Homo sapiens: one gene and its partners. The protein of the gene in region 1 purifies or fractionates together with the protein of each later gene. This does not show direct contact. Each region holds a gene or a part of one and is shown in the gene's direction. Other genes may lie near its edges.

What was found. Proteins that work in one complex are often made in the same cells at the same time.
Region 2: the proteins of CLEC11A (region 1) and PKP4 purify together in Homo sapiens (affinity purification with mass spectrometry; 4 studies listed by BioGRID and IntAct, with this or other methods). This does not show direct contact.
Region 3: the proteins of CLEC11A (region 1) and PRRC2B purify together in Homo sapiens (affinity purification with mass spectrometry; 4 studies listed by BioGRID and IntAct, with this or other methods). This does not show direct contact.

The regions. Positions count from the first base shown.
Region 1 is NC_000019.10:50,719,171-50,726,381, forward strand, and holds CLEC11A (C-type lectin domain family 11 member A precursor), read left to right. Parts: upstream 1-4,193; 5' UTR 4,194-4,355; coding exon 4,356-4,502; intron 4,503-4,734; coding exon 4,735-4,921; intron 4,922-5,239; coding exon 5,240-5,431; intron 5,432-5,851; coding exon 5,852-6,297; 3' UTR 6,298-6,538; downstream 6,539-7,211. UniProt on the Homo sapiens protein: Promotes osteogenesis by stimulating the differentiation of mesenchymal progenitors into mature osteoblasts. Important for repair and maintenance of adult bone.
Region 2 is NC_000002.12:158,662,682-158,669,987, forward strand, and holds part of PKP4 (plakophilin-4), read left to right. Parts: intron 1-215; coding exon 216-407; intron 408-590; coding exon 591-764; intron 765-3,166; exon of another isoform or gene 3,167-3,400; intron 3,401-3,731; coding exon 3,732-3,882; coding exon of another isoform or gene 3,883-3,896; exon of another isoform or gene 3,897-3,983; intron 3,984-7,038; coding exon 7,039-7,234; intron 7,235-7,306. UniProt on the Homo sapiens protein: Plays a role as a regulator of Rho activity during cytokinesis. May play a role in junctional plaques.
Region 3 is NC_000009.12:131,389,384-131,397,121, forward strand, and holds the start of PRRC2B (protein PRRC2B), read left to right. Parts: upstream 1-4,702; 5' UTR 4,703-4,880; intron 4,881-7,738.

The DNA.
Region 1 (7,211 bases):
GGGTGGGGGGCGCGCCCTCCCATCAAGGATGCGATCTGGGACGGGGCACCGGGGACCCGGGCGTAACCCAATTTGGTGTCGCCCAGGGCAACGCTCCCCACCTCACCCGTACCCCCAGCCGCACACCCAGGCCAGGAGCCCGGCGCCGGGCCAAGGACATCCGGGGCGCCCTCGCCCCCTCCCGCGGCCCCGGCCCCGCAGCTGCCCCAAACCCCCAGGTTCTCGACCCCCTTACCTGCCTGGCGGGGCTGCTGAGTCCCGGTCGGCGGCGCCCGCGGCCCCTCCCCCCTCCCCCCACCCCCCACCCCCCCGGAGACGGGGACCCTCAGGCCATGCCCCACCGCCCCGGAGGGCGAGCGGGCCCGGGGAGGGGGCGGGCGGGGACCGGGGGGGAGGGCGGGAGGGCCGAGGACCTCACCCCCCCCGCGGGCCGGGCCTGGCCATCCGCAGAGCGCCCCCCCTTCCGCCGCGGCCGCCGCGCCCCTCCTCGCCCGCCCCCGGCTCGGTCCGGCCGGCTCCGGGCGCCGCGTCTCCGCCTGCTCTTCCTCCTCCTCTTCCTCGGGCCGCCGCCGCCGCCGCCCGCTCCGCGCCTCCTCTGCCACCCTTCTCGCTCTCTCGCTCTCGCTGTCTCTCCCTCACCCTGTCTCTCTCCCTCCCTCTCTCCCTCCCTCCCCTCCCTCCGCCCTCTCCCCTCCCTCCGGGAGCCGGCGGAGGAGACATCGCCCCTCCCCGCGCCCCCAAACCTCGCCCATCCCCCACCACCGCCGGCTCCGCCCCCTACCCTTGCCCTCCCCCACCACTCCTCCCCACCTCCGAGTCCCCAAATCCTGACTCCGCCCCTGCTTGCTCCCATACCCCGAGGAAGGGGTCCTGCCCCCATAAGGTGCCCCCCCACACACACCTCAGGACCACCCCCTCCCAGAGAGCTCCCCGCCGCCCTACACAGAGTGGGGCACAATAAATATTTGTTGCCAGACTCTACACCCCCAAATTTAAGTGTGAAGGCTATAGATTCCCACCCTGTCCCCCCAAACACACACACACCCTTTCCATTTAAGCACTGGGTCAGGGCACACGTGGACATACCTGGGCCAGGCCACATTTCCCCAAGGCACAGGTGCATAGTCACCAGCTGTAACGGCACCTGCAGAGTCCCCACATACACACACTCTCCAGCGCATGCATGCCCAGACACAATGCACCTGGGGTACACAGCTACAAACACACCCAGCTACATGCAGTTGTCACACCCCTGTGCCCGGGCACACACGCAGCACATGCACACATTTGCCCACCACACACGCACGTGCGCGCGCACACACGCACACAGGCGTTCACCCCGGTATGCATGCCCAGATCTCTCAACACCAAAACGGAGTTACAGCACTGTAGAGACGTGTGCACGCCTTCCCATCACACCCACCCACCGTGCTGTCCATTGCACTGGCTCGCACTCACCCGTTTACATGCCCAACACCGTGCCATCCTTCCCCTCCAGGATAGTTACTGCTGACATTCCTGGAGCACTTTCTGTGTGCCAGGCTCAGGGACTTTCGCCATCCCCATTTTCCAGAGGGGGAAACCAAGGAACAGAGAGGCTAAGTAACTTGCCCAAGGTCATCCAGCTGTAAGGAGGTGGTAACAAGGATCAGGAACAGGTAGGCTGGCTCCAAAGTCCTCACTTGACAACTATGGTGCACTACTGGGCATATCCCCTCATAGTTGCATATCCTTATTCATCACACACAGACACACCCAACCGTCTCCTCAGAGTTTGCACATGTCTGTGTAGGCACGCATATGCAGCCAGCTGCAGGCAGACAGCTCATTCATGCCTGGGACGCACCCACAGGGACAGAGCAGATCCCACAGGGCAGCAGTGAGTGGTGAGTGTCCCCTTAGCCCAGGCTTCCTCATTCTCCCAGCTCCAACAGCACCTCCAGGGCCTGCAGGGGGCAGTTCTAGGCAGCTTCTGGGTTCCCCTCCAGCTGCAGGCTCTCCGGGGTACCCGAGTATGAGCTGGAGGAGGTGCCTGCTCAGCCTGGGGAGGCCTCTATCTTGATGCGTACCCACTAGCCCAGGTGGTGAGCAGCTGGGCCCGGGGAAAGCACAGCTGCCCATGTTGGCTCCAGCAGCCAGAGAGGCTGTGCACCCCTGCACACTTTACAAGGCCTTTCCCCACATACGCATTATTTCTTGAGGTCTGTAGCTCCTGGTGAGGGGCCCCAGGTTCCCGATGGGCACCTGAGAGGCCCAGGCTCTGAGGCAGGGAGCAGTCTGCCCAAGGTCACAGTGCCCTCGATGTACCAGGATTTCTTGGAAAACGGAAGGCTGGAGGCACTGATTTCCAAGGCCCCTCCTGGGGCTCCCGGCAGCCGAGGGCAGATGCCCTGCTCTTGGAGCCAGAAACCTTGGCTAGCTGCCGCCACACTGGTGACCTCCAGCAGGCTATGCTGTTTCAGAGCCTCGGTCTCCTCCTTTGAAGAGCAGGCCCAGTGATCCTTGGCTGGTGTGCCCCATGCTTGTTGGCACCACCAGCCAGGCCTGGGCGGGAAAAGCCCTGCATGACTCATGGGCCTGACATAGAGGGGCATGGCATGGCATTGTTCTTCCTTGCCTCCAAGCCTCTCTCCCACTGCCCTCACCACCTCTACCTACCCTGCCACCACCACCCTGGGAACTTGGGTGCCAGCAAACCAAAGAGGTGAAGCTTCCAGGCCTTTGACCCCACCAGGAACGGCTACCCTCTCGCCCACTCAACAGGTTGATTGAACACCTACTATGTGCTAGGTAGGCCTTGTGCTAGGAGATGCATCAGTGCATAAAAATCCCTGCTTTCATTGGCAGGGAACAGACATAAACAAACAAGATCATGCCAGTCTTGATTATACCAAAAAGATGAAATGGGGCATTTTAATAAAGTAACTTGCGGAATAGATAAGGTGGTTGGGGAAGACCTCCTGGAGCTGAGACCTCGATGATGAGAAGGAGCTGGGGAAAGAGGCTTCTAGAAGGAGGAAAGGGCTAGTGCAAATGCTCTGAGGTTGTAATCAGCTTAGTATTTGGGGATGAGCCAAGAGGCCAGGGAAGGTGGAGGCTGGGGGTGGGTGAAGGGAATGGGGGTGATGAGGCTGCAGAGGTGCAAAGGGTTCTTCCTTCCCAGCCCCCAGCATGGTAGGCTGCGCTGAGGACTGAGGCCCGGGCTTGGCTTCCCTCCTGCTTATGATGGGAAGGTGGGGGAGCAGGGGAGTGGGGAGTGATGTGATCTGATTTATGGTTTGGAAGGATTGCTTTGGCTGCGGCAAGCAGCCGGGATTGGAGGGGCTCAGGAGGAAGGAGGGGGAGGGCGAGACTGCAGTGGTCCAGGCTGAAATGAGGTGGCTTGCTGAATGCTCAGAGCTCCTTGAGCACACAACCTAGCGTCTGTCGATTTCACCTCCTGGAGAAACCTTCCCTGACTGCTCCGCCAGACTCCTCACCCTCTCCCATCTCCAGCCCCCTCATCCCCGGAGCTATCTGGCTGCTGGTCTGCAAGCAGCTGGAGTCCCCAGCATCACCCAGCCCACAGCCTGGCCTGCAGGAGGCTTCTAGTAAAGTGGCCAATTAATCCCCGAGCCCCGTCTTCCAGGGTCATGCACACAGTCACACGCGTGCTCTTCACATGTGTCACCCTGCCCCCACACACACTCACTTGGATCTCCAGACAAGGGCTTGGAGGGTAGGATGGGCAATCTAGGGGGCAGGAGGGGCCCTGGAGTCTCCTCCATTGAGTGTGCAGGCGATGGTGGCCACAGGGTAATAACAACCTCAGCGAGACCCTGAGGTCTGCCCCTCCTTAGGAATGGCCAGGCAGGGAAGAAGGGAGCAGTGCTCGGTCCCAGCATCCCACCACTGCCGAGATGGTTCTGAGCGGGTTCCTGGGCTGAGGCCGGGGCCTGTGTTTTCCAAGATTCCTTGGAGAGCCAGCTCCATCCTCTTCCTGATTATCTGATCTTTGGGCTACAGCAGAAGGAAAGAGCAGGGCGGAAGCGAGCTCTGGAAAGTGGAAAGAGGAGGGTGTGCGAGGAGACCCAAGGCGGGATCTAGGCTTTGGAACGTTGGAGGTTTCCGGCCACAGAGGCAGGGCCTCCGGGGAGCCAAGAGGGGCGGGGAGAGACACACACAGAGAAGCAGAGGAGACCAACGGACCGGACAGAGACGAGGAGAGGAACAGGAAGAGAGAAGCTGGGAGAATCGGGAACCTGGGGGCTAGTGACCTGCACACAGGGCAGGGGCACTCGGCAGTTCCCAGAGGCCACCCCTCCCACCCCAGACATCCAGACATCTGGAACTTTGGGTGCCAAGAGTCCAGCTTAATGCAGGCAGCCTGGCTTTTGGGGGCTTTGGTGGTCCCCCAGCTCTTGGGCTTTGGCCATGGGGCTCGGGGAGCAGAGAGGGAGTGGGAGGGAGGCTGGGGAGGTGCCCAGGAGGAGGAGCGGGAGAGGGAGGCCCTGATGCTGAAGGTGAGCTCTGGAGTGTCAGGGAGCTATGGGTGGTGAACTGTGGGTCTGGGAGGGGGTATTGCAAGGTTAGGGAAATGGACAATGAGGAGCGATTGGGATAGTCTCAGAGGAGTGGGAGGGTGATGGGCTCAGAGACAGGACTCAGGCAGCAGAGAATGAGTTATGAGTTGGAAAGGGGTGAATGGGGCATCTTGGTGGCAGGCTGGGGCTCACCACCCCTCCCCTGCCCCAGCATCTGCAGGAAGCCCTAGGACTGCCTGCTGGGAGGGGGGATGAGAATCCTGCCGGAACTGTTGAGGGAAAAGAGGACTGGGAGATGGAGGAGGACCAGGGGGAGGAAGAGGAGGAGGAAGCAACGCCAACCCCATCCTCCGGCCCCAGCCCCTCTCCCACCCCTGAGGACATCGTCACTTACATCCGTGAGTAACCAGAAGCCCTCACCCCCAAACTCCTAGGCCGCCGCGGTCACTTTCGCAAAAATGAAGGGTCGGTTCACTGCCAAGTGGCCTTTCAGTTGTCCATTGCCCAGCCCAGAGCCCCCACACCCCTAGGAGCCCCAGGTCCACGGCCATGCCTCCTAAAGGCCTGGGCCACTCGACCCTACCTTCCAGGAGTCCGGGGTGCCCCCCCCACCGCCACCCCGCCCTCAGGAGCCCTAGATCCCAGTTCTCCAGGTCCTCAGGCCCCCCGCTGCATCTCCAGGCTCCCCCTCCAGCATGATCCCTGTCTGTCCGCAGTGGGCCGCCTGGCCGGCCTGGACGCAGGCCTGCACCAGCTGCACGTCCGTCTGCACGCGTTGGACACCCGCGTGGTCGAGCTGACCCAGGGGCTGCGGCAGCTGCGGAACGCGGCAGGCGACACCCGCGATGCCGTGCAAGCCCTGCAGGAGGCGCAGGGTCGCGCCGAGCGCGAGCACGGCCGCTTGGAGGGTGAGTCCGCGGCGCGCGGGGTGGAAAAAAATGAGACTATCTGGGCCAGGAATGGGACTGGTTGAGAAGGTGACCCTAGGTGTCCGGGGCGGGAGAGTTCGGGAGAGCTGCTGTGTGCTAGCGGACGGGGTTAGAGAGCTGGGAGGCTGAATGCAGGGAGCGGGTGGGCACTCCAGACCCGCGCGGACCCGACTGGGGCAGCACCACGCCCCCTACAGTCCAGCTCCCACCGCCTGGCCCCGCCCCTGGCGGACCAGACTCTCCACCTCCTGGCTCCCGCGGTTCTGACCACGCCTCCTCCCAGCCCTCCCCATGAGTTCCTGGCCCCGCCTCCCTCCACCCCCGGATGTTTTGTCCTCGCCCCCTTCCAGACTCTGAATGCATGACCCCGCCTCCTTCTCTACCCGGCCCCGCCCACAGGCTGCCTGAAGGGGCTGCGCCTGGGCCACAAGTGCTTCCTGCTCTCGCGCGACTTCGAAGCTCAGGCGGCGGCGCAGGCGCGGTGCACGGCGCGGGGCGGGAGCCTGGCGCAGCCGGCAGACCGCCAGCAGATGGAGGCGCTCACTCGGTACCTGCGCGCGGCGCTCGCTCCCTACAACTGGCCCGTGTGGCTGGGCGTGCACGATCGGCGCGCCGAGGGCCTCTACCTCTTCGAAAACGGCCAGCGCGTGTCCTTCTTCGCCTGGCATCGCTCACCCCGCCCCGAGCTCGGCGCCCAGCCCAGCGCCTCGCCGCATCCGCTCAGCCCGGACCAGCCCAACGGTGGCACGCTCGAGAACTGCGTGGCGCAGGCCTCTGACGACGGCTCCTGGTGGGACCACGACTGCCAGCGGCGTCTCTACTACGTCTGCGAGTTCCCCTTCTAGCGGGGCCGGTACCCCGCCTCCCTGCCCATCCCACCACCCGGCCTTTCCCTGCGCCGTGCCCACCCTCCTCCGGAATCTCCCTTCCCTTCCTGGCCACGAATGGCAGCGTCCTCCCCGACCCCCAGTCTGGGCGCTTCTGGGAGGGCTCTTGCGGTGCCGGCACTCCTCCTTGTTAGTGTCTTTCCTTGAAGGGGCGGGCACCAGGCTAGGTCCGGTGCCAATAAATCCTTGTGGAATCTGACTTGAGGGGCAGTGAAGGCAGTCTTGGACTTTATCTCCTGCAGGGGAAGCCGGGAAGGGCCAGACCCTGGTCTTTGGGCGCGTGTCCTGGCCTTTGGATGCCTGTTCTGCTTTTTACAGATGTCATTTGAGCCCCAGATGGAGTGATGGAGAAACACAGGTGCATATGTACACACGGTCATCTGTTCTGTGCACAGATGGCCGGAGTACACGCGTACAAACGCTGTAGACACCTTCACCTCCATCGTGCCCTCTCTCTCGGCCTTTGGGACCCAGGGCCTGCCAGTTGTCCCAGGCCTTGGTCTTGGTCCTGGTCAAAGAGATTTGGGAAACGTGAAGGGGCTAAAGGCTCTGACAAGTCCGGCAGGAAAGAGCCCGTTTAATTTGTTTAAGTGGCGTGTCCAATTTGTTTCCCCAGATGATATGGTTTCATGGACTTGTTGGGATGATATATTGAGACATGGACTTAAGGACTCACCCAACCCTGAAGCTTAGACTTCCTCCCAATTTTCCCTCCTCTGCTTCCTGCCAGTGAGGCCAGGAGCCAGTCCCTTCCCCTCTGTGAGCCTCGGGTTTTTCATCTGAACGTGGGCACAATCCCTCCTACTTTGTGCGGCTCTTGGGATGTTCAGGTGAGACCAGGACAGTGTGCATTTGGTGGTGGCTGAACTTGA
Region 2 (7,306 bases), on another chromosome or scaffold:
TCAGCAGGACTGAGAAGGGCTCTGCATCCTGTCATCTGGGTATTCCACAAACACTCTAGAATCATAATTCTCTCTTCAGATTGTTTCAAGTTCTCATAAATAAAAAGTAGTTCTTTCATATTTCCCATTTATTTCCTGTCTGTAGTGTTCAGTACAGAAGTGTTTTGCTCTAATGTGCCGAGTTGTTTTTAATTATACGCCATGCTGGGTTTCAGACGGTGGAGAACTGCGTGTGCACCCTGAGGAACCTGTCCTATCGGCTGGAGCTGGAGGTGCCCCAGGCCCGGTTACTGGGACTGAACGAATTGGATGACTTACTAGGAAAAGAGTCTCCCAGCAAAGACTCTGAGCCAAGTTGCTGGGGGAAGAAGAAGAAAAAGAAAAAGAGGACTCCGCAAGAAGATCAAGTTAGCATTTTATTTTATATGAGACTCTCAAGTTTAATTTTTCTGGGAGTGAGGAATCACATATTTGGCAAGAAAATAAATTTTCTGCATAGCTATAGCTGAGTCCCGCAAAGGTGAATGTTTTCAAGTATTGGAGATCATGTTCATTCTGCCTCCATTTAACGTGTGCTGTTTGTCTTTCAGTGGGATGGAGTTGGTCCTATCCCAGGACTGTCGAAGTCCCCCAAAGGGGTTGAGATGCTGTGGCACCCATCGGTGGTAAAACCATATCTGACTCTTCTAGCAGAAAGTTCCAACCCAGCCACCTTGGAAGGCTCTGCAGGGTCTCTCCAGAACCTCTCTGCTGGCAACTGGAAGGTAGGATGACTTCCACTTATCTACACTTCTTTCCATCTTTGCAAACTAACTTGAAATGTTATATATATATGTTCTGCCTCAGTCAGATCAGCCCTGATGGTGAAAGGGTCACAGCTACTTAGCTTGTGTGTGAAGGGGTTAAAGGGAAAAAAGGGAGACAAGCAGTTGCTCTGGGGATACAAAGATAAATACAAGTCCCTCACTATGAGAAACAGAAGGCTAGTGAGAAAAACAGATGGTGCCAGCACAGTGTAGAAGCCACAGGATGTATGTGCTGTGGGGTCCTGAAAGAAGACATCTAACCCAGCCACACAGTGTAAGGGAAGGTCAGGAAAAGAGCGGAGTAAGGACGTGGAGGAGATTTCCTGAAGGGGATGCTGCCCGGCAGAATCTCTGAAGATGAGTGAAAGTAAGCCTGTAGAGGCTGAGGCTGTGGTATGGAAGGAGCCATCCAGATAACAGGGACAACAGGAGGAGGACAGTCTTGTGGTGCAGAGAAGACGTGTGGGCCAGGACTACTGGCTGCCCACTGGGGCCCACCATGGAGCCAGGCATCATGGATAGGCCTGAAGGCCAAACTTCAGGAGCTGAATCCTAACCTACACACAGGAGGGACTACCGAAAGAGTCTGGGCAGATGAGTGACAGAGACGGGCTAATATCATCACTGCTCCCCCACTTCCATGGCAGTGCAAAAGGTGGATTCGAGGAAGGGAGAGTTAGAAGCAGGGATTGGATTTGGGAGCCAGTGCAGCAATACAAAGGTGAGAAATCTTGAGTGGCAGGACAGAACACAGGTTGGGCAGCACTGTGGGGAGGGATAGAGGACCTCTGTTCCTCTCAGACCGTTACAGACATGCCTGTGTCTAAGGTTTCTGCATCTTTTTGCAAATGTATGAGTATGAAAACTGAAGACAGTTTCCTTTTGTTACCACTGTAAGCAAGTTCTCAGAACTTTCTAAATGTCCCCCAGCAACTTCCCAGACAGTCCTTGTCTGAGACATTTTCAACCTCTAGTAATTTCTTGACAGGTGTATTTTAGTAGAGTTACTACAATGCTTGCTGTGGGCTTCTTCCCCCACCTTAACCCCCCAAAATGAGAATCTTTTGGTGATGGTGTTTTCAAGATAGTGAAAAGCATTGATAAGCCTAGGTATGGTTTGTTTCGTGCACGTGGCCACTATGTTGAATATAGAGCGATAACTATGGTCTAGTGCTAAGCCGGTGTGGTTATTTTGTTGTGGCTCCTAGTTAAAGTGCCAGTGACTGAGTGTGTAAGTGCTGGCTCTGAATCCAGGCCACTCTGCTTACCGTCTGGCAGCCTAGGGGCTCTGCCCACAGTTTCCACCTCCCTAAAATAAAGTGAATATTAATACCTGCCTTATAAAGTGGTTATGAGGATTTAGTGAGATACTCCCAGCACATAAGTATTTATAAACATTTATGTTGTAGAACAGCGTTCACCTTCAGCTTCTGTGACCAGAGGATCATTTGATGATAATAAAAGACAGTAATTGAAATCGATGTGATTTGACTTATTTAGAAGTTCATGTCTGGGATCATTTAGTGAGAGAGTTAGATGGCAAAGCTCATTTAAAATATAAACATTATATCTAAGCGATTTCAATAGTGAGTTAAAATATTGGACCTTCACTAAGAAAATGAGATAATCGTGGCCACAGATGTTATCAAGTAAGAAGCTATTTCAGGAGCAGTGATGACTGTAGTTCTCCAGAAGGGAGACGGGCTGGGCTGGGCTGGGCTGGTAGGTCTCCAAGTGAGACAGAAGGAGATGGTTCTGTTGTTGCAGGTTTCAGAGAGAAGTTCATAAAACTGCCTGAGTGCTTTGCCTAGTAACCAGTCATGTACTTCATTTTCCCCCCATAGATTTCATGTGATTTGAAAAATAGGAGTATGCATTTCATATGCAGAATATAAATAGGATCTTTGAAATGCATCTTTCCCTCTTATTTGTATTATTAAAATATTCTGTTGGTATTCAAGAAACTGGATGGTCAATCACATATTTTAATGTTCGAAATAATACAAAGGGCTGGTAGATCTCTGTCCTACTGTCTTGGTCACAGCAGGAAAGTATATGTTTTATGAGCAGCATCTTTCAATTACCCTAAAATTTGAAAGATGATTTGCATTGGTTGAAAAAGTCAATTAAAGCTCAAAGCTGGAAACAAGATTAAAGAACCGTTTTCTAACGTTACTCTTTTTGGTTGTTTCACTGATGACTTAGCGCTCATTTCCATTTTATAAGATATACAAACTGACTCACAGTACAGAGTTGCTTCATAGTCACAGAAAAATTTCTTGACTATGGATTTTTAAAAAACAGCATCAGCAGCTAACTAATCTTGAGTGAGAATGCATTTTGCACACAAATATACTTACTTTTTCACCAGGCTGTATGAATTATGATGCTGGATGTTTCTGGAGATTTCCCTTTCTTCTGAGGCAAGGGATTTTTCCAACTAATCTCTTTGACAGGTTTCTGAACTCGAAATATTGTTGCAGGGAATATAGAAAAAAAATGACTTGATGGAGACAGGTTCTCCTTTCATGTGTGCTGATGGGTTACTGTCTCTGCCATCCTATTTATAGCCTCTGGGTTTGGCAGGGGACCAACTGCAAAGAAAACACACGATCCTTCCTTAATCATGTTTATGTATCTGAGATAGAAAGTAATCACTGCCTTCTCTTTTCTGCACAAAAATATCTGGCAGATGGTGGTTTGAGATTTTCAGGCTTTGGGATTTCTTTTTAAATCAGTCATTCCAGCCTATCTTTCTCCCCAACTTTGGTTTTCTCTTCACTGACACCACAGATTTGATCTTCAATTGGAAAGAAACCATTTAATCTATTAGTTCATCTTTTGGAAACATCTTTTTTAGGTGACAGTAACATATGAGACTGGAACTCTGTTTTATGTTACTTCCTGCCTTATTTTTCTCACTAGTTTGCAGCATATATCCGGGCGGCCGTCCGAAAAGAAAAGGGGCTCCCCATCCTTGTGGAGCTTCTGAGAATGGATAACGATAGAGTTGTTTCTTCCGTGGCAACAGCCTTGAGGAATATGGCACTAGATGTTCGCAACAAGGAGCTCATAGGTATGTTCTGGTGACAAGATGAGCTGTAAATGTGAGAGCAGCTACAAAATTCATGAAACTCTTCTTTTGATTAATAAATATATGGCTTGTAAAATCATTAACAGCTGAGCCCTAGTCTCCAGTTTCTTGGCATATTTGAGTACTCCTGTTTTGTGACCATTCTTTTTCAGCAGGAGGCAAGCTCATTAATTAGTCATTGATTAGGGAAGGTAAATTTTCAGAAAGGCCAGCAATTTTAGTTGTACCTTACAACACTAGTAGGGTTAATGTCTCTCATTTCTAAGAGAGTTCTCTATATCCTGAGCAACAAAAAATCTTAATCTCCCTTTCCAATTTTTGGACTGCTACCTGCTAATTCACCAACACTACCATACTCTAAATAAAAAATCACATGAATGTTTTGTAGCTTTCCCCTCTCACATTGGTATAAATCTTTATCCCAGAGAAGAACCACTGTCCCAACATCATTTCCACCCTGGGCAGGGGCAGGACTAGGGTGAGCTAAGCAAGGCGCCAAAGGCACAACATTTTAGGAGGCCTTTACTCTCAGGTTTGTACAAGGTAGGGTTGGCACATGCACAAACCAAACAGTGAGGACCTCTGTACGCTCCGCACCCCAGGCAGCTTGCTTGCCTCTGCGGCATTGCCACATCCTAGGCAGGATGCGGGCTAAAGAAGACATCAGGGACCCCCATAAACCTGAGCTTCGTTCCCAGGATGTGCTGCTCACTGGCCATGCAACCTGGGGTATCCTATATAACCCCGTTCAGGCTCCGTAATTCTATCTAGATTGGAAATGAAAGGCAACTCCTCATCTCTGAAGGGGAGCTGTTGATGCCTGCTGTCCTAACTGGGTTTGCTGTAAAGAGGAAATGAGAGAGCTCCATGCCAAGTCCCACAGCTGGTGACAGGTCAGGGGAGAAGGAGGGGAAATGGGACAAGATCTTATGTGGATTCATGTGAATCTATAGTAAACTTAAAATACACCTGCCATGAGAGAAGGAGAGAGAAACAAGGGCGATGATGTTTACCATAAAGAATTGCTGTAAGGATTAAACGTGATGACTTACAATGGAAGCCCTTCACACAGTGCCTGACAGAATTGCTATTTTGAATTGTTGCCCAGATTAACCTGCTCTTAACACACCATTCCTTTAAGCCAAATCATCCCCCTACGGAGAGGAAAGGAAGTTCCTCCTCACCCTGTTCATGGTCCAGCTCATGCCTGATTCTTGTAGATGTGCCATATCTCTCAGTTCCCACACTTCCTTTACAGAAATCCTTCAGGTCCCTAAAGAGAGATATTCTTTAAAGTTATTTTTCTTACGTCTGTATTGTTTGGATTTCTTATAAGAAGCATGTATAATTTGGGCATTTTTAATGCTAAAAAATAAATGGTTGACACGTATATCCTGTGGCCTGTCATATTTCACAACGCAAAGACACAGGTAGACAGGAGTCCTTGAGCTGGTACTGTGAAGTGCTAAGACCTTTGGCAAGAGGAATGTGTGTTCCAAGTCTTGGCTTCCTCTCAGTGCATTTCTGTGTTTTCTGTGAATAACCCTTTTTAACTTCCACTGGCCTTCTGCCTCTCCAGTGATGAGCTTTTTTTTTTTTTTTTTAACCTGGCTGGAGCACTCTTGAACTGTTCCATCAGTCTGTTTTTTTGTTTCCCTATTCCCGTCTTCCTGTGAGATCTGCCTCACTCTTGGATTCAGTATTTGGCTCTAATTTACCCAGTACTTCAGTTCCTAGGAACCTTCCCCTTCTCTGACCTCTTCCCTCTTTTTTCACATTCATCATCAGCACTAGCAAAGGACTTTCTTTTCAGAGCCATTTTTCACAAAGAAGCAAAGTTTTATCACTTCATAAAAGTTACTACATACTCAACTGAGTGGGACCCACCCTGCTGTCTGGAGCTGCAAGTTCTGAGGGGACCGCCAGGCTCACTCATTCATAGGCAGAGTGAGCTGCCTCGGCCTAACCCCCAGGAGTGCAATTTAAAGTTATGCCTTAGCAAAATGACAAATTACATGTCATGGGCCTTTTGGTCATTCATGAGTATTCAAAATCACCAGAGCTAACTTATCATCTGCTCTGAAAACCACATTTATCTTGTGGCCTTACAGTGTCAGCACTGTTTTTCCACTCTTCATAGCAGTGTTTGTCGTGAGCAAGCCAGAGCCTTCCCTCTGACGTGCTGTACATCACACAGCATGTAGCTGAGACCTGTCTTCTTCTGCTTACCACTGTAAATAAACAGGCCTTTATAAAAAGCGATTGCACATCCACTCAATTATTAGCATAGGGGAGAACTAAGAAGATGTTTACTTGCACTTTAGTTCATTTCTTTTGTTTGTAGTGCACTTACAGTTTGTCAGTTGGTAATCGAAGTTGAAAAAGCTAGAGGTAATCTCTTTTTGGAGAGGAATAAGAAAAATTCAGTATCTATAAAGAAATACCTCAATAACTGTGAAACTCCCCTTGCCTTGTCTTAGCAAGAATTTCATTATTATTGCATTATTCCTGGGAGATAACATACCTATAATTTTAATACCAGAACTTTTACTTGTGTCATCTTTTAAAGAAACTAACATGTTGCCACCGTTGTCAGATGAGTTGCTGTACACCTCAGCTCTATACACAAAAATGTGTAACTGTACCCAGTTCATACATTAAGATCCAGAAAGATCTAACGAAAAGTATTGTTTGGCAGCCTGACTTGGTCCAGATTCAAAGGTAAGTTTTAAAAAGCTCTAAGAGGAAATTGAGGTATTTGTGATGCATAGGAATTCCATTGAGAATAAAATTTACTATTATAATTCCTTCATTACTCAATGTTACTGAAAATACTCGAACGAAAGTAACTTGATTTGTCTACCCAATTTTACGCATTGATTTACATTTGCTTTCAGCAATTGACAGTAATGTTTTATAAATGAATCATTTCTGCAAGTGACGTTGCAATAAATGTTAGCTTTCCCCTTATAATGACATTTGTCCTTTTCTTCTTTGCCATGGGTTTTGATTTTTTCCCCTATTATTGTCTCTTTGGGGGTTTTATTTTTAAGAGATTGCATGCCACCAGAATCTGAACAACAATAACAAAAACCTAGTACCTTCTGGAAGTAGAATTTACTCTTTTGCCGTTGGCAGGCAAATACGCCATGCGAGACCTGGTCAACCGGCTCCCCGGCGGCAATGGCCCCAGTGTCTTGTCTGATGAGACCATGGCAGCCATCTGCTGTGCTCTGCACGAGGTCACCAGCAAAAACATGGAGAACGCAAAAGCCCTGGCCGACTCAGGAGGCATAGAGAAGCTGGTGAACATAACCAAAGGCAGGGGCGACAGGCAAGTCTGCGGCAAGGAGGTGCAAGCAGTGCTCTTATTCCTGAGATTGTCCTGTGATGAGGCCTTTGTTGA
Region 3 (7,738 bases), on another chromosome or scaffold:
CAACCTCAGGCAATCCGCCCACCTTGGCCTCCCAAAGTGCTAGGATCACATGCATGAGCCACTGTGCCTGGCTGGGCAAGTCACTGAACTTTCTGATGCTCTATTTTCTCGACTGTTAAGTGCAGGTATTCAAAACACCAGGTATGTTTTCTTCCTCTGACACCTTGCTGGATGCTTTGTCCCCATAGTGGTGACAGTAGGGGAAGGGAGGCTGGGCACCCACCTCCAGGCTTGCTGAGGTTTGGAGGCTTTAGTGCATGTGCTTATTTGGCTGGTTTTGTGAGCCGTGTGTTTTGTGTGGTTGGTCAGGAGCCATGATTTTGGCCTCAGTTGTCCAGGCATCCACTTTTCAACCACCATGGAGATTGAGTGCTTACTTTGTGCCAAGCTCTCTTCTCTGCTTGGGGATCCCAGCTGGAGAGACACCACAGTGCTCCCCACCCAATTTTCGCAGGTAGAAACTCTTAGGCACCAAAAGGCTAGCTCTGCTGGTTGGAGACAGAACCAGAACTAAAACCTCGGAACATGGTTGTTTTTTTTTTTGTTTTTTTTTTTTTTGAGATGGAGTCCTGTTTTGTCGCCAAGCTGGAGTGCAGTGGCGATCTTGGCTCACTGCAACCTCCAACTCTTGGGTTCAAGCGATTCTCCTGCCTCAGCCTCCCGAGCGATTACAGGTGCCCGCCACCACGCCTGGCTAGTTTTTGTATTTTTGGTAGAGACAGGGTTTCACCGTGTTGGCCAGGATGGTCTTGATCTCCTGACCTCGTGGTCCTCCCGCCTTGGCTTCCCAAAGTGCTGGGATTACAGGCGTGAGCCACTGCGTCTGGCCTGTGTTTGTTTTATTGACTGTAGTGGCCCTTCTCTGCCCAGTTCAACAGCATGGCCCCAGAGCCTGGCACAGTGAGCACCAGAGTGCAGGTGCCCAGTGAATGAACGGACGAACTTTGATTCCCAGGGCTCTCCTCTGGGCTAAGCACTTTGCAGGGATGGATGACTGCATGCCATTCTCTCCATGAGGATGGTCAGGGAGGTAGGAGATGGCTGAGCTGGATTTGAAGCCAGGTCTCTTCTCTCCCAAGACTCCTAGCTTGCCTTTTTTTTTTTTTTTTTTTTTTTTGAGACAGAGTCTTGCTCTGTCGCCCAGGCTGGAGTGCAGTGGTGTGATCTCAGCTCAGTGCAAGCTCTGCCTCCCAGGTTCATGCCATTGTCCTGCCTCAGCCTCCCGAGTAGCTGGGACTATAGGCGCCCGCCACCACGCCTGGCTAATTTTTTGTATTTTTAGTAGAGATGGGGTTTCACCATGTTAGCCAGGATGGTCTCGATCTCTTGACCTCGTGACCCACCTGCCTCGGCCTCCCAAAGTGCTGGGATTACAGGCGTGAGCCACTGTGCCCTAGCTTTTTTTTTTTTTTTTTTTTTTTGATACAGAGTCTCGCTCTGTCGCCCAGGCTATAGTGCAATGGTGCAATCTCGGCTCACTGCAACCTCCACCTCCCAGGTTCAAGCAGTTCTCCTGCCTCAGCTTCTTGAGTAGCTGGGATTACAGGCACATACCACCAGGCCTGGCTAATTTTTGTATTTTTAGTAGAGACAGGGTTTCACCATGTTGGTCAGGCTGGTCTCGAACGCCTGACCAAGTGATCTGCCCACCTCAGCCTCCCAAAGTCCTGGGATTACAGGCTTGAGCCACTGTGTCTGGCCCTAGCTTGCCTTTTAACCCTTCCCTCGCTGTGTTGCCTTCAGCAAGTCTCCAAGGTTGTACTAGTTTTCTATTGCTACATTACCACACATTTAGTGGCTTATGTAACTTTGTTATCTTAAAGTTCTGGAGGTCACGGTGGTTGGCAGGGCTCATTTTCTTCTGGAGGCTTTAGGGGAGAATCCATTCCTTGTCCTTTGTAGCTTCTAGAGGCAGCCTGCATTTCTGGGCGTGAGGTCCTGCGTCATTCCTTTGTCAGTCAATATGATGAACTCCGCTTCATCAACCACATCTTCTCCGACTCCGACCCTCCTTCCTTCCTCTTGTGAGGACCCTTGTGATTCCACCTGCCCAACCAAATAATCCAGGATTCATCTCTGCATCTCAAGATCCTTAACTTCATCCCATCTACAGAATCCCTTTTGCCAGAGAAGGTACCATTTTCACAGATTTCAGGGATCAGGACTTGGACATCTTTGGTGGGGGGCATTGTATTGCCTCCACAAAGTCTACTTTTCTTCTCTGTTGGATGGGCACACTAGTGTCTGTTTTATGGGTATGTCGTGAGGATTACCTGAGTGACTCTATAGGGAGTGTTTAGCACAGTGGCTGTCACATAGTAAGTGCTCAGTAAACCACCCTGTTACTGTTCAGCCTCCTCCTATCATTTTGTTTTGAGACAGAGTCTCTCTCTGTTGCCCAGGCTGGAGTGAAGTGGCGTGCTCTTGGCTCACTGCAACCTCCACCTCCTGGGTTCAAGTGATTCTTGTGCCTCAGCCTCCCGAGTAGCTGGGATTACAGGACCCCACCACCATGCCCGGCTAATTTTTGTATTTTTAGTAGAGACGGGGTTTCACCATGTTGGCCAGACTGGTCTCAAACTCCTGACCTCAGGTGATCTGCCTGCCTCGGCCTCCCAAAGTGGTGGGATTACAGGGGTGAGCCACCACGCTTGGCCTTACAAATAAAGAATCTGAGGCTTCAGATAGTTTATTTCTTTTTTGCTTGTTTATTTTCTTTCTTTTTTTTTTTTTGAGATGGAGTCTCACTCTGTCACCCAGGCTGGAGTGCAGTGGCATGATCTCGGCTCAGTGCAACCTCCGCCACCCGGGTTTGAGCAATTCTTCTGCCTCAGCCTCCCAAGTAGCTGGGATTACAGGCGACTGCCACCATGCCTGGCTAATTTTTGTATTTTTAGTAGAGATGGGGTTTCACCATATTGGTCAGGCTGGTCTTGAACTCCTGACCGCATGATCCACCTGCCTCGACCTACCAAAGTGGTGGGATTACAGGTGTTAGCCACTGCGCCAGCCTTACAGATGAAGAACCTGAGGCTCAGTTTATTTATTTAATTTATTTTTTATTTGTTTATTTGCCTTCTATCATTTTTATTAGTTGCTGGGTTTTGAGCACTGGGCCAATTCTATGGCCTTCCTGAAGATGGTCAAGGAACAAAATCGAAAACAAAAATTAGGGTTACATCCTCCCTGTTTTGTAGAGATAGCGAAATATTGAAGACATTGGCAGGGGAATAATGCAGATTTGATGATGTAAAACAGAGTGGCCGGCACTGTAATCCCAACACTTTGGGAGGCCAAGGTAGGTGGATCACTTTAGCGCAGGAGTTCCAGACCAACTTGGCCAACATGGTGAAATCCCATCTCTACCAAAAATACAAAAATTAGCTGGGCATGGTGGCAGATGTCTGTAATCCCAGCTACTCAGGAGGCTGGGGCAGGAGAATCGCTTGAATCTAGGAGTTGGAGGTTGCAGTGAGCAGAGATTGCGGATTGTGCCACTGCACTCCAGCCTGGGGGACAGAGCGAGACTGTCTCAAAAAAAAAAAAAAAGAAAAAAGAAAAAAAGGATAACACTGAAAATGACCATGGATAAAATGTAGGAAAATTCAGAGAATTATAAATAAGGCTATAAAAGTATCCAGAATTCTACTCCCCAAAAACTAAGCTTTGTTCACCAGCCTCAGTTCTGGAGTTAGGCTGAAGTGGGTTAATTTTCCTTCTGGGTCCAGCAGTGTGGCCTGGGGCACATTCTCTCAAAGCCTCCTTTGTCTCACCTGTGAATTAGAACAATAATATCTGCCCCTGGGTTAGGATTAAGTGAGACAAACCACGTGCTTTAGCATAGGGCATGGCCCGCAGCTGGTGCTTAGAGCAACCGTGACTGGAAGAGGGTGGGATGATTTGGGTGCCAGGCCCTAACATTTTTTTTTTGTATTTGCTTTTTGAAATTGCTTTTATAGTTGGTTAGGTGTCTAAAAAAGTAAGAACCCTCCTCCGCTCTCCCAACCTCAAACCACGGAGGTAACCAAGACAGGAGTGCAGTCTCCCGGACCTTTTGTTTTGCAATCACACAAACACACAACACTCAAGAGGAGGGGCTTATTAGTTTTCATTTTGTAAAAATGGGACAAAGTACCCATATTGTGCAACAACCTTGCTTTTGAAATGAAAAAAGTATTATTTCTGCTTCCTTTCCGTTCATATACCGTATACATATTTTAACAAAATCCGGGCTTAGTCTGTTCTGAGGCGCTGCAGTTTTGAAGGGGGAGGGGGCGGAGATCCGGGCTCGCTCCCCCGTCACTGCCCCCTCCATCCCTTCCCCCTCTTTCCGGGCGCCCTTCCCCCGGGCCCAGGCCGGGCCCATGCCCTTCCCAGGCCCCTTCTCTTGGCTCCTGGCCCCTCCTCCGGGTCTCCTCCCCGATCCCCGCTCTGCCCCGTTCTCTCCCGCCTCTCCCGCCGTCCCCGGGCCCCTCCCCACTCCCAGCCCCCTCCCAGCCCCCTCCCGCCGCTCCCCGCCCCTCCCCCCTGGCCCCAGCCCTCGCCCGGCCCCCGGGCCGATCCCAAGGCCGCCGCTCCCGGGAGGCGCGGCAGGGGGCGCTGCGCGGGCCCAGGTTGCGGGCGGCGGCGGGAGGAGGAGGACGAGGAGGCGGGGGCGGCGGCAGGCGGGGGGCGGGGAGCCGAGCGCGAGGGAGCGAGCGGCGAGACAGGCGCCGAGGCTCCACCGCGCAGCGACGAGCGAGCCCGGGAGGAGGGAGGGAGCGAGCGAGCGAGCAGCCCGCGCCGCCGCCTCGCAATCCGCCGCCATCCCGCCGCCCCCGTGCCCGACCGCCGCCCGACTGCCATCGCCCGGCCCGGCCGCGCCCGCGGAACCAGACCAGGTGGGTCGGGGCCGGGGCCGGGGCCGGGGCGTGGGGGCGGCGGCGCTAAGATGGAGGCGGCGCGGCCCGGCCGGGCTTTGTCTCCCGCGGCCGCCGCCGGGGGCCCGGGGGCCCTGCGGCCCTGCCCGACCTTTGTCCGCGAGCGCGGCCGCCGCCGCCTCCTTCCCGCCGGGCGCGGGGCTGCGGGGCTGGGAGGCCGCGGGGCCTGGGGGCGGCGGGCCCGGGCGCGCTCGCCATTGTTGTGGCGGCGCCGCGCGGCCTCAGGCTCGGGCGGGGTCCAGGGGCCGCGCGACTCCCTCAGGGCTCGCCCGCCACCCCCGTACCCCCGAGGCCGGGCCGGGCTGCAGAGGCCGGAGGGGCGGGGGTCCCGGGCCCGCAGCCGGGTCTCGGGGTTCTGGGGCCGGCGTCTTTGCTCCCCGCCCCGCCCAATTGACGGAGCAGCGCGCCCGAGGCGGGATCCTGCGGGGTCGGGCCTTGGGTCCGGGGCGCTGAGCGGCGTTCGCGGGGCCGTTCCTGGCGCGGGGTGGGCCGGGCCCCGGCGGCGCTAAAGTTGGCGGCTGGGGGAGGGAGGCGAGCGGCCGCCCAGTCTCGGTGTGAGTGCGGGAACCAGAGGGTTATTTTCGAAATGCTGAATGCTCCATGCTAAAAATGTTTAATAATAAACAGGATGTCGCCACTCGGGGCCTGCCAGATGGGGTTTTTTTTTTTTTCCTCCTCTTTTGCCTCCCCTCAACCCCCAGGAGAGAAATTCAGCCCTGTTGAAACTGTGGGCCTCTGAAGAGTGGATTTGCCTTAAGAGGTGGATTTTTTTCCTTTTTCTTTTTTCCTCCTTCTAAATATCGTGGGAGGTCGGAGCCCACCTTTAGGCAAGAATTGGAGGTGTTTTCAGTGGTGAGCTTGAAGGAAGTGGGAGAAGGGGGGCTGGGGAGTGTCTTTTGCTAAATGGCTTCCTGGGAGAAATCTTTAAATGCCTTTGGTTTACAGGACTGTTAAACTTTCCCTAAGATTTTTTTTTTCTTTAAGGTTTAGTGTGCATTTGATGTGGCTTTGTACAGTGTCATCCAGTTTGGTTTTTGTAACCAATTGTGTGCGGTCTTAGCATGGTTTTTCCGAATCTCGCTGCAGCCATTTAGTCATGTCTATGCACAGCGCTGTGGTGTAAGGTGGGACTGGGGAGGCCCAGGCATTGGGGTGCAGATCCTGCTTCTTTCTTCCGTAAACCTAGTGACTCTGGGGCTGTCTGAGGCTTCATCTGCATAAATCGGGGCGTGCACCCTCCACCTGGCAGGTTTGGGCAGCGGTGAAGGGCCTAGCAGAGGGCCTGGCACAGTTAGTGGTTCCTCCTACGGTTGTTGGTATAACTGCTGTCAAGTCCTAGGACAGACGTGAGCCCCTTGTGGTGCCACCCATAGAGCCAAACTGTGCCCATGGATGCCACAGGTGCTGGCCTAAGGCATGGACAATACAGAAGGAATTCAAGGCCCAAACATTAGTGGGCGCTTATACAGTGCTGAGCCTCTCGGGAGGCAGGGATGGGAAAAAGTAGCATTTGGAGGTCTCTAGAACTTAGTAGACCCGGAGTGTGTGGCAGTTGGTCAGTTTAAGGCAGGGTTAGAACAGTACGAGATGCTCAGGACAAACAGACGCCCAAGGAGTCCTGCCTTCTGAGGATAACTGCTTTCCTTGGGGATTGGCAGATAATCATCTGAGAGTGAGTTTCTACTTGTTTGGGCAAGTGTGTCTCTTGGAGCCTGCGCAGCTGGATTCTGGTCCTCATCGGGTTACCTTTACAAAGCAAGTCTCTGAGGCTCAGATCTTGCATCTGTAAAATGGGAATAATTATGCCTGCCTTGGGTATCTATTAGGGCTCTTGGGAGCCTCACTTAAGATTCACAGTGAATTGTTTTCTCTCCATAGGAAGGTGATGAAATGTATGTGTTTGTTGATTATCTGTTTTTCTGGTTCCTTTCTCCTTCCTTCCTCCCTTGCCCTCTTCCTCTCTCCCTCCCTCCCTTTCCCTTCCTTTTCCTTCCTTCCCTTCCTTCTTTTTTCTTTTCTTTTCTTTTTTTTTTTTTTTTTTTTGAGACAGTCTCACTCTGTCGCCCAGGCTGGAGTGCAGTGATGTGATCTCAGCTCACTGCAACCTCCGCCTCCTGGGTTCAAGCGATTCTCGTGCCTCAGCCTCTGGAGTAGCTGGGATTACAGGCATGTGCCACCACACCTGGCCAATTTTTGTGTTTTTAGTAGAGACAGGGTTTCACCATGTTGGCCAGGCTAGTCTCAGACATCCGACTTCAGGTGATTTGCCTGCCTTGGCCTCCCAAAGTGCTGGGATTACAGGCCTGAGCTACCGCGCCCGGTCTTCTTTCTCTTAATGCTTATTTTTTCCTCTTCTCTTGGTTGATGGAACTGTGACTTCCCCACCCCAAATTCTATGGCCGGCTAATGTTTTGCTATGGTGACTATCACCCATCTACCTGGAAGCACCAGAATGGCTTAGTACAGCTAGGGAGCTCAGCCAGATCTCGGTGTCTGCTGTTTGAGATTGTGTGGAAGGACTATTGCTAAGAAGCAGGAGACAGACTGAACCCAGTGTTGGCCACAAGTGAGGACTGAGACCCAGGTCACCTCTTGGCTGAACATGTTAGCTTGTTGGTAAATGGCTCTGCAGTGGTTCTGCATTTTATTGGGGAATTTGTTTTGGTTCATTTTGGCATTCCCGCAACCATCTTGTTGGTTTTTTGGTAAAATGTGGCACCCCCTCCAGACCTCCTAGCTGTGGAACTGAGATATTTTAGCAGGGTCCTGTCATCCTTTGATTTTTCCTCGCTTCCTGCCTCTTGGCCCTTCCTTTTTGT